Regions from separate parts of the Homo sapiens genome. Here region 1 is linked to region 2. A link means that fine-mapping ties the variant in region 2 to the expression of a gene that starts in the linked region. Tissue or cell type: iPS cells. Region 2 holds a variant in brackets; the other region holds the start of a gene. All regions are shown on one strand. Distances are from middle to middle.

What was found. PIP is the estimated chance that this variant, and not a neighbour inherited with it, causes the effect.
Region 1: RANGAP1 starts here. The variant in region 2 is fine-mapped to the expression of RANGAP1 in iPS cells (HipSci, PIP 0.92).

The regions. Positions count from the first base shown.
Region 1 is chr22:41,282,198-41,290,299 of GRCh38, forward strand. RANGAP1 (Ran GTPase activating protein 1) reads right to left here and starts at 3,990. Exons shown (of 16, transcript NM_002883.4): 1 at 3,789-3,990. RefSeq lists enhancers at 3,693-3,762, 4,193-4,412, 4,443-4,512, 4,833-4,882, 7,393-7,992.
Region 2 is chr22:41,240,578-41,248,679 of GRCh38, forward strand. It overlaps CHADL (chondroadherin like), which reads right to left and starts at 354. Exons shown (of 6, transcript NM_138481.2): 1 at 297-354. The coding sequence starts at 304. It overlaps RANGAP1 (Ran GTPase activating protein 1), which reads right to left. Exons shown (of 16, transcript NM_002883.4): 16 at 4,202-6,095. The coding sequence ends at 6,026. RefSeq lists enhancers at 1-457, 458-958. The variant CA/C (reference allele first, on the strand shown) is at 3,344.

The DNA of each region.
Region 1 (8,102 bases), 42 kb after region 2:
AGGCTGAGGCAGGAGGATCATTTGAGCCCAGGAGTTCAAAGCTGCAGTAAGCTATGACTGCCACTGCACTCCAGCCTGGGCAACAGCGGGAGGCTCTATCTCTAAAAGTAACTAAATAAATGAAAGAATTTTTTTTTTTTGAGACGGAGTCTCGCTCAGTCGCCCAGGCTGGAGCACAGTGGCGCCATCTGGGCTCACTGCAAGCTCCGCCTCCAAGGTTCATGTCATTCTCCTGCCTCAGCCTCCTGAGTAGCTGGGATTACAGGCACCCACCACCATGTCCAGCTAATTTTTTTGTATTTTTAGTAGAGACAGGGTTTCACCGTGTGTTAGCCAGGATGGTCTCGATCTCCTGACCTCGTGATCCACTCGCCTCAGCCTCCCAAAGTGCTGGGATTACACGCATGAGCCACCACGCTTGGCCAATAAATGAAAATTTTTAAAACAAGTAAAGCTTTGAGAACTCCTGCGCCTGCTCATGGTACTCCAGCTTTACTTGGAGTACATGTGAGATTAAATGTCTCAATGTGTACTGCCTATAAATTGAAGCCAGCTATATTAGACAGGAACGTGGAACATCACTACATACCTGAATAGTGTTTACTTTGTGGTATGAATAAACGTATCTGTGAGATGCTCCAAAAAAAGAAAAGAAACAGCAAGTAATCAGGAGAGACCAAGGAAGCAGATATGAGGGGCAGAACTAGGGGGTGCTATCCGAAAGGCCTCCTCCTACAACCTCCTCATTCTCAGATACAGTTGTGATACCCTGAATCCTCCCACCCCTAGGCTTCCTCTGGGTTCTAACTTATAACCCTGGTTTGTCTGCCTTTATCAATAAGCATGAATTATTATCCTGGGTAAGGTGTCCACTCATTCATTCAAAAACACATTGATTACTACTGTGTGCTGGATGTTGTTCCAGGTCAGCAGTATAGCAGTAAAGGAAGCATAAACCCTGACCTCTTGAAGCATATGTTCTAAATGACACATTTAGTATGTGATTTAAAAAAAAAAGGGGGGGGTTGGGGGGCCGGGAGTGGTGGTTCACGGCTGTAATCTCAGCACTTTGGGAGACCGAGGCAGGTGGATCACGAGGTCAGGAGTTCAAGACCAGCCAGGCCAACATGGTGAAACCCCGTCTCTACTAAAAATACAAAAATTAGCTGGGCGTGGTGGCACACGCCTTTAGTCCCAGCTACTCGGGAGGTTGAGGCAGGAGAATTGCTTGAACCCGGGAGGCGGAGGTTGCAGTGAGCCAAGATCGCGCCATTGCATTCCAGCCTGGCGACAGAGCAAGACTCCAACTCAAAACAAACAAATAACAACAACAACAACAAAAAGGCATTAACAACAACAACAAAAAGGCATTATTAGGAAATAGTTAAATAAAGATATCAGGGATTGGGCCATGCACACATCTGGGGGAACATGATTCCTGCAAAGGGAATAGCAAATGCAATGGCTCTTGTAGGGGCAGAGGGTTGGAGAAACTGCAACAGGGCCAGTGGGGCTGAAGCACAGAGAGAGAGGAAAAAAACAAGGTAAGAGAAGAGACAGTTAACAAGGGGCCCAAGTCATAAAGCCCATTTGAAGAACAGTGGCTTTCGCTATAAGTGACAAGGAAAACCACTGAAGTTTTTAGCAGAAAGCAGATGTCATCTGACGTACATTTTGACAGGATCACTCTACTTGCCACATAGAGCCTGGCATTTAGAAGGTGCTCAAGAAACGACCAGTTGAAATTGCATAAAAATTAACCAGGCCAGGGCCGGGCGCAAAGGCTCACACCTATAATCCTAGTACTTTGGGAGGCTGAGGTGGGCGGATCACGAGGTCAGGAGATCGAGACCATCCTGGCTAACACGGTGAAACCCGTCTCCACTAAAAATACAAAAAATTAGCCGGGCCTGGTGGCGGGGGCCTGTAGTCCCAGCTACTCGGGAGGCTGAGGCAAGAGAATGGCATGAACCCGGTAGGTGGAGCTTGCAGTGAGCTGAGATTGCGCCACTGCACTCCAGCCTGGGCAACAGAGCGAGACTCACCTCAAAAAAATAAAATAAAATAAAATAAAATAAAAATTAACCAGGCCGGGTGCGGTAGCTCACGCCTATAATCTCAGCACTTTGGGAGGCTGAGGTGGGTGGATTACCTGAGGTCGGGAGTTCGAGACCACCCTGGCCAACATGGAGAAACCCTGTCTCTACCAAAAATACAAAATTAACCGGGCGTGGTGGCACATGCCTGTAATCCCAGCTACTCAGGAGGCTGAGGCAGGAGAATCGCTTGAATCTGGGAGGCAGATGTTGGGGTGAGCTGAGATCGTGGCATTGCACTCCAACGTGGGCAACAAGAGTGAAACTCCGTCTCAAAAAAAAAAAAAATTAACCAGAGTCGGGTGTAATGGTTCACTCCTGCAATCCCAGCATTTCCGGAGGCTGAGGTGGGCGGATCGATTGAGCACAGGAGTTAGAAACCAGCCTGGGCAGTATGCCGAAACCCTGTCTCCACTAAAAATACAAAAACTAGCTGGGTGTGGTGGCAGGTGCCTGCAGTCCCAGCTACCTGGGATGTAAGGTGGGAGGATCACTTGAGCCCCGTAGGTGGAGGCTACAGTGAGCTGAGATCTTGCTGCTGTACTTCTGGAGACCCTGTTTCAAAAAATAAATTAACCAGAAACCAGCCCAGTGCAATAACTCACACCTGTAATTCCAACATTTTGGGAGGCTAGGCGGGAAGATCACTTTAGACCAGGGTTCGAGACAAGCCTGGGCAACAGAATGAGACCCTGTCTCCACAGAAAAATTTAAAAATTAGCCAGGTGTGATGGCATCTGTAGTCCCCATGACTTGGGAGGTTGAGGTGGGAGGATCGCTTGAGCCCAGGAAGCCGACGCTGCAGTTCAGCGGTGATCGTTCCACTACACTCCAGCCTGGGTGACAGAAGGAGACCGTCTCTAAAAAGATAAAAAAATTTAAAGAAAAACCAACAAAAAAATTAACCTGAAACCCCAGCATCTCTTGCAGTTCTGAGATGGGACAATTTGAGGGTAAAAGGTGGTGGTGAAGCCTCCAGATAGAATAGGGACAGAACTTCTCAGCTGAACGGGGGCCCATTCCTCAGTCCAAGAGAGAGCGAGACAGAGATGCACCCCTCCACACTCACTTTATAAACCAAGAAACTGGAGCACAGAAACGTAAATTGATTTGTCCAAGGTCAGCAAAGGATCAGCGCCAGAGCAAAAGCAAAGGGCTAATAGAGAAACATCCTCTCCCCGCTCCGCAGCAACGTCAGAGACTTTCTGAGGTGAGATGCATGCTCCTGCAAAGCGTCAGCAGTGACTCACATCGATTCCAGGGACAGCGGCGCCAGCCCGGGGCCCCCGCGGGCGTGGGCCTGCTGGGAGGTGGCTCTGCGGGAGCGACGCGCGAATACAGGCCGCAAATGATAGGCGGGCGGCGCAGGAGCCCCATCTGGAATCCCCGGCGGACTCGCACCGCCTCCGGTTGACAACAATGCTAATATGAGACGCCACTGCTAGCAGCTGCAGGCTGAGCTGCTCTGGCGAGTCAGACGCCCTTTAAGCCTCAGTTTCCCCATTTGTGAAAGGAGCCAGCGCCGCTCAACAACCCCACTCCCACCGCCACCCCTGGGGCGCTCGGCCGTCGAAGGCTAAGTGAAGAAGGCCGAGGGGGCAGGCAGAAGGCGCACACGGGCGCCACGCCCTCCTCGCCCCGCACCCCTGTTCCAGGCAGGTGACGGGGAAAGGAAAGGGACCCTGACTCTACCGTAAACAGGCGGCGCCGCCGCGTGGGGGGAATCGAGCGCGCGCCTCCGCCCTCTGGGGCGGGGACGGATTTAGGGTCCGGGTCAGGCCGGGGTCGCCACCTCCGGATCCAGCGGTCCAGATGTCCAGCCGGCTAGTCTGTTAGCTCTCTCGAGCTCCCGGCCTCACGCGCTTCCAGCACCACCTGCTCTCCGCACCGCGGCGGATGATGGCGGAGGAGGAGGATTTTGAAAGCCGGCAGTTTCTTTGCTTCGATTTGATTTGTTCGAGGCCCCGGCCGGCTTGCCCTCGCCCCGCTCGCGCGGCCTCTCGGGTAGAGTAGTCCGGTTCCCCATCTGGGAGCGCGATGGGGCGCGCACCGCGAACTACCCGTCCCATGGCGCACCGCGCGCAGAGCGTCCTCCACCGCCCTCCTCTTCGCCCTCCCCTGGTGGCTTCTGGCTCTTTCTCGCAGAGACCGCAGGGAGGTGTTCAGCCGGGAGCGCCCAGAGACTACAATTCCCAGAATGCGTTGCACCCAGGTCCCTCAGCTCTTCCGGAAAGGTTTTGTTCGCGTAACTTTGTTGATAACAGGTACTGCTGGCTGCTGGGTCTCTTGGGCAAGACACAGGTATCCATTTCCCGAAAGAAAAGACTCTTTTCCGTCCCATGAAACTGAAAGGGCATTCGAAGGCTTCCACATAAATATGCACAAATTACCTGATAATTAAAAAGGGGAAATAGTAACTATCGTAGAGAAGCTCCGCAGACACCACTTGAACGGCCACGTTAACATCAACAGCAGGACAAGCTGACATTCATCGCACGCTTTCTGTGTGATGCACTGAGAAAAACACGGCGTCACCGTCCGGTCTATAATGCATGACCTTAGTCTAATCATGAGAAACCCAAGCTGAGGGACATGGTACAGAATAACTGATCTGTACCCTTCCGGAAATGTCTGTATTATGTAAGACAAAGAAAAACTGAGGAACTGTTGCCGATTACAGGAAACGAAAAAGACAACTGAATGCAAGACATGGTCCTGGATCGGATCCTGGGTGGGGATTGCTATAAAGGACAATACTGAAACAGCAAAACTTGACTATATTAGATAATAGTATTGTATCAATGTTAAATTTATTAATTTTGATTATGGTACAGGGTTATGTAAGAGACTGCCCTTGTTCTTGGAAAAAAATGCTGAAATAATTAGGGACAAAAAGGACATGATGTCTGCAACCTTTATGGTTAAAAGAAATATACCTATACATATACATAGAGAAAGCAGAGACACAAATGTGGCAAAATGTTAATCAGTTAATCTGGTTGAAGAATATGGGAGTTCTTTGAACATTTTTGCAACTTTTCTGTAGGTGTGAATTTAAGCATAAAAACACAAACAGCGTTTTTTTTTTGTTTTTTTTTTTTGAGATGGAGTTTCACTCTTGTTGCCCATCTTGGCCTCCCAAAGTGTTGGGATTATAGGCGAGAGAGTGTGAGACCAGCCTGGGCAACATGGTCAAACCCTGTCTCGACAAAAAATACAAAAATTAGTTGGACGTGATGGTGCAAGCCTGTAGTCTCAGCTAAGGGCCTGAGGCAGGAGGATCTGGAGCCTGGGAGCTTGAGGCTGCAGTGAGCCGTGATTGCACCACTGCATTTCAGCCCTGGCGACAGAGCAAGACCTTGTCTCAAAAACTGAAAAAAGAAAAAAAAAAAAAGTTAAACAGATCATGCAGGCTGGGCGCAGTGGCTCACACCTGTAATCCCAGCACTTTGGGAGGCCGAGGCGGGCGGATCACCTGAGGTCAGGAGTTTGAGACCAGCCTGACCAAAATGGAGAAACCCCGTCTCTACTAAAAATATAAAATTAGCTGGGCATGGTGACGCATGCCTGGAATCCCAGCTACTCGGGAGGCTGAGGCAGAAGAATCGCTTGAACCCGGGAGGCGGAGGTTGCAGTGAGCCGAGACGCACCATTGCACTCCAGCCTGGGCAACAAGAGCGAAACTCCGTCTCTAAATAAATAAATAAATTAATTAATTAATTAACAGATCATGCCATATCCTTTTACACACAGCTCATTTAATCTTCACCACCACAAGGGAAGTGGGCATCATTACCACCCTTCCCAGCACAGAGATGAGAAAACTGAAGCTCTAGACAGAGTGTAACTCTCCCAGTTCTCAAAGTTCCTGAGATGTGGATCCTCTTTCCACCTTCCCTCTCCTTTTTACCTACAAGGCCCATGTCAAATGCTACTTCATGAGTCTCTCCCTCCTGCAGGTGCCCACAGCAAGATGCAAAGCCCCACAGCAGTTGGCCTGGGACTCTGGGGCTCTTTGACAGAGTTAACACTGTTCTTGGCAGTTTCCTCCTCAGCCTGGGAGGGTCTCCAGAGCAGACGCTGTATCCATCTGGGCAGTATCTTCTCTGGGCCTGGCCTGTCATAGGTGCTTCAGGTTTCCCCATTTGAACCAGATACCAGTCGGGTTACCGGATGTTTGCTTAAAATGAGTCATAGGCTTCCTGCTATTCCTGTGCTGCTTCCAGCTAGGACTGATCGAATCAGTCTGGATTTTCCTTGGGGTGATCCGCAGGCTCCCTTTTCCAATTTTACTTCTTGAGACTTTCCTTGGCCCTCACACAGAGACCTCCCAAAGGGAAGAGGAAGGTGGGCAGGGGAACATCTTAGCTGATCCCGTCCTCATCCAGCTGATAGGACATTGGGTTTTCGGAACTGGAAGGGAATTCTTAGACAACAGAAATTCAGTGGCCTTCAAGGACCTGGGAGGTAACAGGAAGTCATGGGGCTTGTCGGGGCTTGGTGGGGCTTGGGGGGAGTTAGAGAGTGGATGTTCTGCCTGAAGGTGTTCACATTCGAAGCTAAAAATCACAAACTCAGCCTGACAGCACCCCCTAGCAATCTGGATTCTGTCACTCCTATATCCTGATTTTTTTTTTTTTTTTTTTTGAGATGGAGTTTCACTCTGTTGCTCAGGCTGGAGTGCAGTGGTGCGATCTCAGCTCACTGCAACCTCCGCCTCCCAGGTTCAAGTGATTCTTCTGCCTCAGCCTCCCGAGTAGCTGGGACTACAGGTGCACGCCACCACGCCCGGCTAATTTTTGTATTTTTAGTAGAGACGGTTTCACCATATTGGCCAGGATGGTCTCAAACTCCTGACCTGGTGATCCACTTACCTCGGCCTCCCAAAGTGCTGGGAGTACAGTACAGGCGTGAGCCACTGTGGCCGGCCTCCTGAATCTATCTTAAACCTCTTTACAAATGGGGAGACTGGGGTTTGAAAAGGAACAGGGGGTTTGCCCAAGGGTGCCCAGTGAATCAGAAGAATCAAGAATCATCACTGTTTCTGGCCGGGCACAGTGGCTCATGCCTGTAATCCCAGCACTTCGGGAGGGCGAGGCAGGTGGATCATCTGACGTCAGGAATTCGAGACCAGCCTGGCCAACATGGTGAAACCCTGTCTCTACTAAAAATACAAAAAATTAGCTGGGCATGGTGGCAGACACCTGTAATCCCAGCTACTCGGGAGGCTGGGGCAGGAGAATCTCTTGAACCCAAGAGGCGGAGGTTGCAGTGAGCTGAGATCACGCCATTGCACTCCAGCCTAGGCAACAAGAGCAAAATTCTGCCTCAAAAAAAAGAATCATCACTGTTTCCAAGCAACACACTTATCTTCTCTCTTTCTCCTTCCAGCCCTTTCTCCAGCTTTCTCTCTTTCAAGTTATCACCTGAGAGCTAGTCTGCCTGGCCCAAGAAGTGTAATCATGGCCTTTGACAGATGGATAGTGTCATCCAAGACTATCTTGTTCCTTATTTCAACAAATGAAGAACTAAGGCCCAAGTTACAGTGTGACTTACACATGAGACAAGGCTGAGCATGGTGGCTCACAACCAACTGTAATGCCAGCACTGTGGGAGGCCAAGGCAGGAAGATTGCTAAAGCCCAGGATTTGAGACCAGTCTGGGCAATATAGTGAGACTCTGTCTCTACTAAAAACAATTAGCCAGGCATGGTGGTACATACTTGGAGTCCCAGCTACTAGGGAGGCTGATGCAGGAGGATCCTTGAGCCCAGAACGTGGAGGTTGGTTGCAGTGAGCCATGGTCAGGCCACTGCACTCCAGCCTGAATGATAGAACAAGACCCTGTCTCAAAGAAAAAAAAAAAAGAGAGAGAGAGAGAGAGAGAAAGAGAATAGAAGACAGGTCTCTAGGGTCCTTTTCTATTATTATTATTACTTTTTTTTTTTTTTTTTTGAGATGGAGTCTCACTCTGTCACCCAGGCTGGAGTGCAATGGCACAATCAAG
Region 2 (8,102 bases):
CTCAGGGCAGGCCAGGGAGGGGACCCATGGGGACAGATCGCTGAAGCGACAAGCATTCATAATGCAGGGACCACTGCTGGGCTCTCAGACAAGCCCCAGAGGACCAGTTCCTGGCAGTGGCCACATTGCCACGTGTCTCAGAGCCCACCTTGGGAGACCCCCTTCCTGGAGAACCCCAGGAAGTCCCCAGAGCCCCTGCCCGCCAGCCTCTGAGAGGCCCAGAGGGGGCAGAGACTTACCTGAGGCCACTGAGCTGCTCTGAATCCCCCCTTGCACCATCGGGCCCAAAGACTCACCCCTCCATGCCGCCTGGAACTGCTGGTCCAGCCTGGAGGCGCAGCGCAGGGACAGGCTGTCCCCGCCTGGCAGGAGCCCCCCTCCACGGCCCGCAGGCCTGGCAGCTGGGACAGGGCTGAATGGGAGGCATTGTCGGCAGACCAGGCAAGCCAGGCTTCCCCAGGCTGAGGTGAAGAAGGGGCGGGCGGCGGGCGGGAGCAGCGGCTGGAGTTACAGGGCCTCCTGCCTGCCCCAGCCGAGGACTGAGGCCCCGGCCTGAATCCTTGGGCCAGCCCGACAGGGAGGGGGCACCAGCAGCTGGCCCGGGAGTCAGCAGTCCTGGGCTCCCTCCTGCCATGTGGGCTGCCCTCCCAGAGGCTGCTTCCTAGTCTCTGAAAAACACATCCCATTAATAAGTAGCTCTGAGGTCACAGTGGGGGTTCAGGCCCGCACCTGGCACACAGTGGGTGCTTCAGAACAGGTGACCCTTTCCTTCCGTTTGTGCTTACACATTGACATAAATAGTTTAATACTGGACACACAGGATTCTAGACACTCATTTTTTTCACTTAACCTCAGATTACTGGGAGTTATCCAAATTGACTCTTCCGAATCTCATTATTCTGTGGTATATAGTATTCCATTGTGTAAATGTATCACATTGACTTAGCCATTCATCTTGGACATTGGCTACCTCCAATTTTTTGCTATTTACAAACAATATTGCAAAGAATATCCAAATACGCATCTTCCCAAGCTCGTGTTTGTTTTTTAAATAATACATCCAGACCATGGCCAATGTTCATGTATCTTGATTTTTCAGATTCCTGCTTCTGATGGAATTGCATCTTCTACTGTTTGTTCCTTTAATTGGAAACAGGGGTCAGGCACAGTGGCTCATGCCTGTAATCCCAGCACTTTGGGAGGCTGAGGTGGGAGGATCACTTGAGCCCAGGAGTTTGAGACCAGCCTGGGCAACACAGACTCTGTCTCAAGAGAAAAAAAAAAGGCCGGGCGCGGTGGCTCACGCCTGTAATCCCAGCACTTTGGGAGGCGGAGGCGGGTGGATCACGAGGTCGAGATCAAGACCATCCTGGCTAACACAGTGAAACCCTATCTCTACTAAAAGTACAAAAAATTAGCCGGGTGTGGTGGCAGGCGCCTGTAGTCCCAGCTACTTGGGAGGCTGAGGCAGGCAAATGGCATGAACGCGAGAGCCGAGATGGCGCCACTGCACTCTAGCCTGGGCAACAGAGTGAAACTGTCTCAAAAAAGAAAAAAAATATATACATATATATATATATATATATATATATATATATATATATATATATATATATGTATGTGTGTGTGTATACACTTATGTGTGTATATATTTATATATAATAAAAATATAAATGTATATGTTTATATATATTTATATATGTTAAACAATGAACATCTGTGTGTACTTTTCCTAGACTGCAGGAGTTTTTTGTTTTTTGAGACAGAGTCTCACTTTATCGCCCAGGCTGGAGCTCACTGCAACCTCCACCTCCCTGGTTCATGCGATTCTCCTGCCTCAGCTTCCCAAGTAGCTGGGATGACAGATGTGTACCACCACATCTGGTTAATTTTTGCATTTTTAGTAGAGACGGGGTTTCGCCATGTTGGCCAGGCCGGTCCCGAACTCCTGACCTCAAGTGATCTGCCCGCCTTGATCTCCCAAAGTGCTGGGATTACAGGCATGAGTCACCACGCCCAGCCCTGCAGTAACATTTTAAAAAAAGAAATAGTGCCATGCCACACAGCCATCTGCTTTGTGCTTTTTTTGCTTGGCAAATTCCAATCAATGGAACTTCAGTGTGCTCTTTCGTCCTTTTTTTGAGACAGGGTCTCACTGTTGCCCAGGTGTGAGTGAAGTGTGATCATGGCTCACTGCGGCCTTGACATACCAGCCTCCCAAGCAGCTGGGACCTCCAGATATGCACCGCCACCTCCAGCTGGTTTTAAAATTTGTTGTAGAGTTGGGGTCTTGCTATGTTGTCCAGGCTGGTCTTGAACTCCGGGGCACAAGTGATCCTCCCACCTCGGCCTCCCAAAGCGTTAGGATTACAGGCATGAGCCACTGCACCTGGCTGTGTCTGGCGTTTTCCACTCAATATTATGTTAGTGAGAATCATCTTTTTATTTTTTTTTTGAGACGGAGTCTAGCTCTCGTTGCCCAGGCTAGAGTACAGTGGCGTGATCTCAGCTCACTGCAACCTCCGCCTCCCAGGTTCAAGGAATTCTGCTTCAGCTTCCCGAGTAGCTGGGATTACAGGCACCCGCCACCACACCCAGCTAATTTTTGTATTTTTAGTAGAGACGGGTCTCACCATATTGGCCAGGCAGGTCACAAACTCCTGACCTCAAGTGATCCGCCCGCCTCAACCTCCCAAAGTCCTAGGATTTACAGGTGTGAGCCCGCACCCGGCTTCATCTATTTTAATTTTTTTTTTAAATTCAGCATTCCAGCCTTCCATTCTATAAATATATGACAACAGTGGCATGGGGCAGGGGCGGGAGGCAGTCTGCCCACAATGCAGGCAGTAAGCGGGTGTGCTGTCAGTGGAGAAGTGAGACACAATGGAACTGACTTAAAGTTGGTCTCTGCTTTTTATTATCATGTGCTGACAAGTCTAAACAATGTCAATGCTAAAATATTTCTTCTTGGGCAGACCATTCCTACCTTCTCGGTACCACACCGTACCACAAGTAGCTTACCCATTCCTCTAGTGATAGACATTTGGGTTGTTTCCAGCATGGGTTTATTAGAAAGAGCACTGTAGCCGGGCATGGTGGTTCATGCCTGTTAAGTGAGCTGAGGCGGGAGGATCACTTGAGCCCAATAATTCAAGACCAGCCTGGACAACACAATGAGACCCTGTCTTTACAAAAAAAAGCTGAACGTGGTGGCTTGTGACATGGTCCCAGCTACTTGGGAGGCTGAGGCACGAAGACTAAGTGAGCCCAGGAGGTCGAGGCTGCAGTGAGCTGTGATCACACCACTGCACCCCAGCCTGGGTGACATGGCAAGACCCTGTCT[CA/C]AAAAAAAAAAAAAAAAAAAAAAAGGTTGTACCAATTTACACATCTGCCAGCCACTCCAGTTGCCCCAAATCCTCACCAAACTTGGTACTGTATTTTGTATTTTAGCCATTCTAGTGAGGGCATAAGAGTGTCACACTGTGATTATGTTTCTCTGGGAGGATCACCTGAGCCCGGGGGGTAGAGGCTGCAGTGAGCCGAGATAGAAGCTGGGCAACATGAGACCCTGTTTGAAAAAAATTAAAGTTATCCCCCCCACCCATATATATATACAGAGAGAGTTTAGGCAATTATTTTCTCCCTGTCTGTAAGTTGCCTTTGTACTCCTTAATGAGTATTTTGATAAACAGAAACCTGTTCTCACTGCTACATCATTTCCATTGTGTGAACATCCCACGATAATGGCAAAGGAGGTTAAATACAGCTTAATTTATTCATCTTTTCCTCACTCCTAAGGCCTTGAAGATACTCACTTACACTATCTCCTACAAGCTCTCTCTCTCTTTTTTGAGACAGGGTCTCGCTGTCAGTCATGCTGGAGTGCAGTGGCACGATCACGGCTTGCTGCAGCATCCACTTCTTGGGCTCAGGTGATCCTCCCACCTCAGGTTCCCAAGTAGCTGAGACTACAGGCATGCATCACCACACCCAGCTCATTTTTGTATTTTTAGTAGAGACAGGGTTTTGCCATGTTGGCCAGGCCAGTCTTGAATTCCTGGGCTCAAGTGATCTGCCCGCCTCGTCCTCCCAAAGTGCTAGGATTACTACAGGCGTGAGCCACCACACCCGGGTGAAGCTCTATAGTTTTGCTTAATTTTTAAAACATTAACTGAGGTAAAATATATTAATACATGAAATCTATCATTTTAACCATTTTTATGTGTACAATTCAGTGCATTAAGTACATTCACAATGTTATGCAACCATCACCACTCTCCATTTCCAGAACATCTTCATCATCCCAGAGAATCTGTTTGCAGCCTCACTCCCTATTCCACCCTTCCCCTAGCCCTGGCAACCTCTACCTTCTTGTCTCTGAATTTGCTTATTCTAGATGCCTCATCTAAATGGAATCATATTTGTCCTTTTGTGTCTGGCTTATTTCATTTAACATGTTTTCAAAGTTCATCCACGTTGTAGCTGGCATCAGAACTTAATGCCAGCCCCACACCCACCCCCTACCGTATCAACTCACACAGAAGACAGGGGACAGGGCCAGCAGTATCCTCTGCCACCTGGTCACCTACGTGGCCGACTGCCAATGAGAAAATATTGCCCTCTAAGAAACCTTGGAGGGACTTCTTGGAGGCCGTTTGTGGGGGACATGGGCTCCCAAAGCACATACATGGTGTAGGGTAGGAGGTAAGGAAGGTTGGCTGGGCTGTCCTCACATATGTGGCAGTGGAGCAAAGGATCCCAAGGGAGGTGGCTTCCATAGTGAAGGAGCAACGCAGAAGCCAAGCGAGCTGCAGCCCAAAGGCAGGGTGCTGGGTGAGGTGTGGCCAGGCAGGAAAATGGGCCCCCACTCAGGACTGCCACTTCCCAGGTAGTGGCCTGAGGCCGAGGCCGGGCCCTTCTGCAGGGCTGACTGCCCCACAGACTGCTGCGGGGCCGCATGCTCTGCCGAGGTGGGACTCCACGTACAACGGCCCCCGAGACTATCCCGCTTTCAGTGAGAGTTTCTGAGTCTCTGAAGCTGCCACACGACTTTATTTGTGAAGCCCCCGGGCACAGCCCAGACACACACAGAGCACAAAGGGGAAAGCATGGGGCAGTCACGGGTGCTCAGGGAGGTCATACAGCATCTGCCCAGTCCAGACCCTACCGCTCCCCTGCCCCAGGAGGTCCTTTAAGAGCAGCGTCCAGATGCAGCTCGGACATTGGGGACCCTGCCTCTCCCTCCCCAGACTGGAGAACAGCTTTGGGTTGTCAACACTCCCCCTCCAGCCAGGCCAGTCACAGACGACATCTCAGCAGCCAGGAGAAGGCCCACTAGGTCCGGGGCCAGCGCAGTCCCAGCAGCTCCTGCTCCTGGACAATCTGGTGTCTGCCTGTCCACACGGTGTGGGGCCCAGGGTTGCCCTCTGCCAACAACCCCACGATCCGACCCCCACAGTCCCACCCATGGCATTCTCTGCTCTTCAGGCTGAGCGGTCAGCACAGTGGTATGGATGGTAGGGGTGACAGCTGCCGCAGGACCAGGGCTTGGTGACGAGAAGCAGCCCCAGGCAGGGCAGGAAACAACCCAATCACAACACAGAGGGGAAGGACAGCACGCGGGCAACTCCCTGGGTTCTGGCTCCGCCAGGGAGCCGGGCCGGAAGGCAGGTGGGTGGGGACGGCCATCAGGGCCCAGGCGGAGATCAGCAGAGCGCCCTCAGGTGGAGGTGAGTTTAATGGCGGAGCAGCTCACAGCCCTTTCCCCTGGGGGCCAACTCCCCACAACAGAGCAGGGCTGGGCCAGCAGAAGACGTTAAAACCCAAATCCCGACAGGAGGCACAGACCTGCACATGCGCCACACCCACACACATACTCAGGGGACTGACAGGACACATGGGACACAGACCCGCCCTGCCTGTGGCCAGAGTCCTGTCCAAGGCAATGGCGTAGGCTGCGCCTCAGTTCATCCGAGTCCCTCCCCAGCTCACTGGTCCAGGCCAAGGGATGGGAGAGGCTTTGAGTCTAGACCTTGTACAGCGTCTGCAGCAGACTGTGGCGGGCGAAGGAGCAGGATTCCAGGGCGCTGTTGGGCCTGCGGGGAAAGAGGGGTCAGCAGGTCGGTGGATGCCTCTTGGCCTGTTTTCCAAGTGTGGGGGCCATTTTGGTGCCAGACTCATTTTTGTTAATTTGCACAACGACTCAGCAAGAGAGACATTAGCCCTCTGCCTTCTGCACACCGTGGGTGGGGATGGGAGGTGCGAGAGGCTCAGAGAGCCAGGCACCCAACGCCACACAGCCCAGAGCTGGCCAGAATGAAGGCCCCCTCAGCCAGGCTCTCCAAGGGCCCTTCCAGCAGACATAGGCCAGGGAATCCTTACTGGCTGCCAGTGGCCACATAGGACTGGCCCACTAGAGTCCAATCTGGATCATAAGTAAATGGCTAGCCATTGTTTTTTTGGTTGCTTTTTTTCTTTTTCTTTTTCTTTTTTTTTTGAGACGGAGTCTCGCTCTGTCACCCAGGCTGGAGTGCAGTGGTGCGATCTCGGCTCACTGCAAGCTCCGCCTCCCGAGTTCACGCCATTCTCCTGCCTCAGCCTCCCGAGTAGCTGGGACTACAGACGCCCACCACCATGCCCAGCTAATTTTTTGTATTTTTAGTAGAGACAGGGTTTCACCATGTTAGCCAGGATGGTCTTGATCTCCTGACCTCGTGATCCTCCCACCTCGGCCTCCCAAAGTGCTGGGATTATAGGCGTGAGCCACCGCGCCAGGCTGGTTGTTTTTTTCTTGAGACAGGGCCTCTCTTTGTTGCCCAGGCTGGAGTACAGTCCTGGAATCATGGCTCCCTGCATCCTCGACTTCCCAGGCTCAGGTGGTCCTCCTACCTCATCCTCCCAAGTAGCTGGGACCACAGGTACACACCACCACACCCGGCTAACTTTGTATTTTTTGTAGAGATGGGGTTTCACGAATGTTGCCCAGGCTGGCCTTGAACTCCCGGGCTCAAGTGATCCAGTTGCCTCAGCTTCCCAAAGTGCTGGGATTACAGATGGGAGCCACTGCGCCTGAGCTGGCTGTTGTTGCCCTCAATATCATTAGTTTCACTGCAAAGGAAGAAACTGAGGCAAGACTCTGGGGGACTGGGCAAGTGCGGGACGCAGCCAGGACCAGGCCTGACAACACCTCTGGCCTGAAGCCAGTGAACAGGCCAGGATCTGCGCCAGGCCGGGCATCCCAGACCATTTGGCTGGGAGCTGAGGGAAGAGGGTCCGTGCATGTCACTACATAGTTAATCAGTCACCTTGGACAAGACCCAGGGGGCAGACTGAGGCCTGTGCTGGAGGTTGGGCAACAAGCTGGGAAAAGGCATTTTGCTCTGACCAACAAGGGCAAGAGGCACATGCCCAGGCTTAGGATAGCACAGGGGCTGCCAGGGATACAGAGGGAACTACTCTGACCAGGGGGCAGGAAGGACACAAAGGGCTCAGGCGCAGACGGGGGCTGGGGCCACTGGCCAAACAAGCTCTGGACAGCATGGGCAAAGCTCGGCACTGCAGCAACAGCACTGCTATGGAAAGGGGCTCAGGGAGAGCACACTGTGCTGGGGTGGGGTGGGGTGGGGTCGGGGTGAGGCTGTGGCCAGCCATGAGATTCACAGTGAGGCTCTACCTAGCACCTGGCAGAGGAGGGGAACAGTGAGATCTGCCATTCACCAAGGCCAGTCCAGCTGCAGCCCAAGGGGTGGTCTGGTGTGGGGGAAATGCGGCCAGAAGGTAAGGCCTGGCTAAGGAGGCGGCGCCATGCAGACACTGGAGTGGACAGGGCTGCCGCGGCACCAGCTGGGTGCTGGAGGCCAGCGGGGGCCGCTCACGCTCCGCCAGCCCCGCCTCCCCACATGCACCAAGTATCCTGCCTCAGCTGGTGGGCTCTGGGCTCCCCCAGCAAAGGGACTTCCTTGCTCCTCTGCCTGCCCCATGTCCCCGGATGGCGCCGACTGACTGGAAGTGTGGCTGGTCAGGGCGCTTGGAGACAATCTCACCTAACCCCCCGGTTGGACAAATGGGGAGACTGAGGCCTGATGAAGGCCACAGGTTGGCCA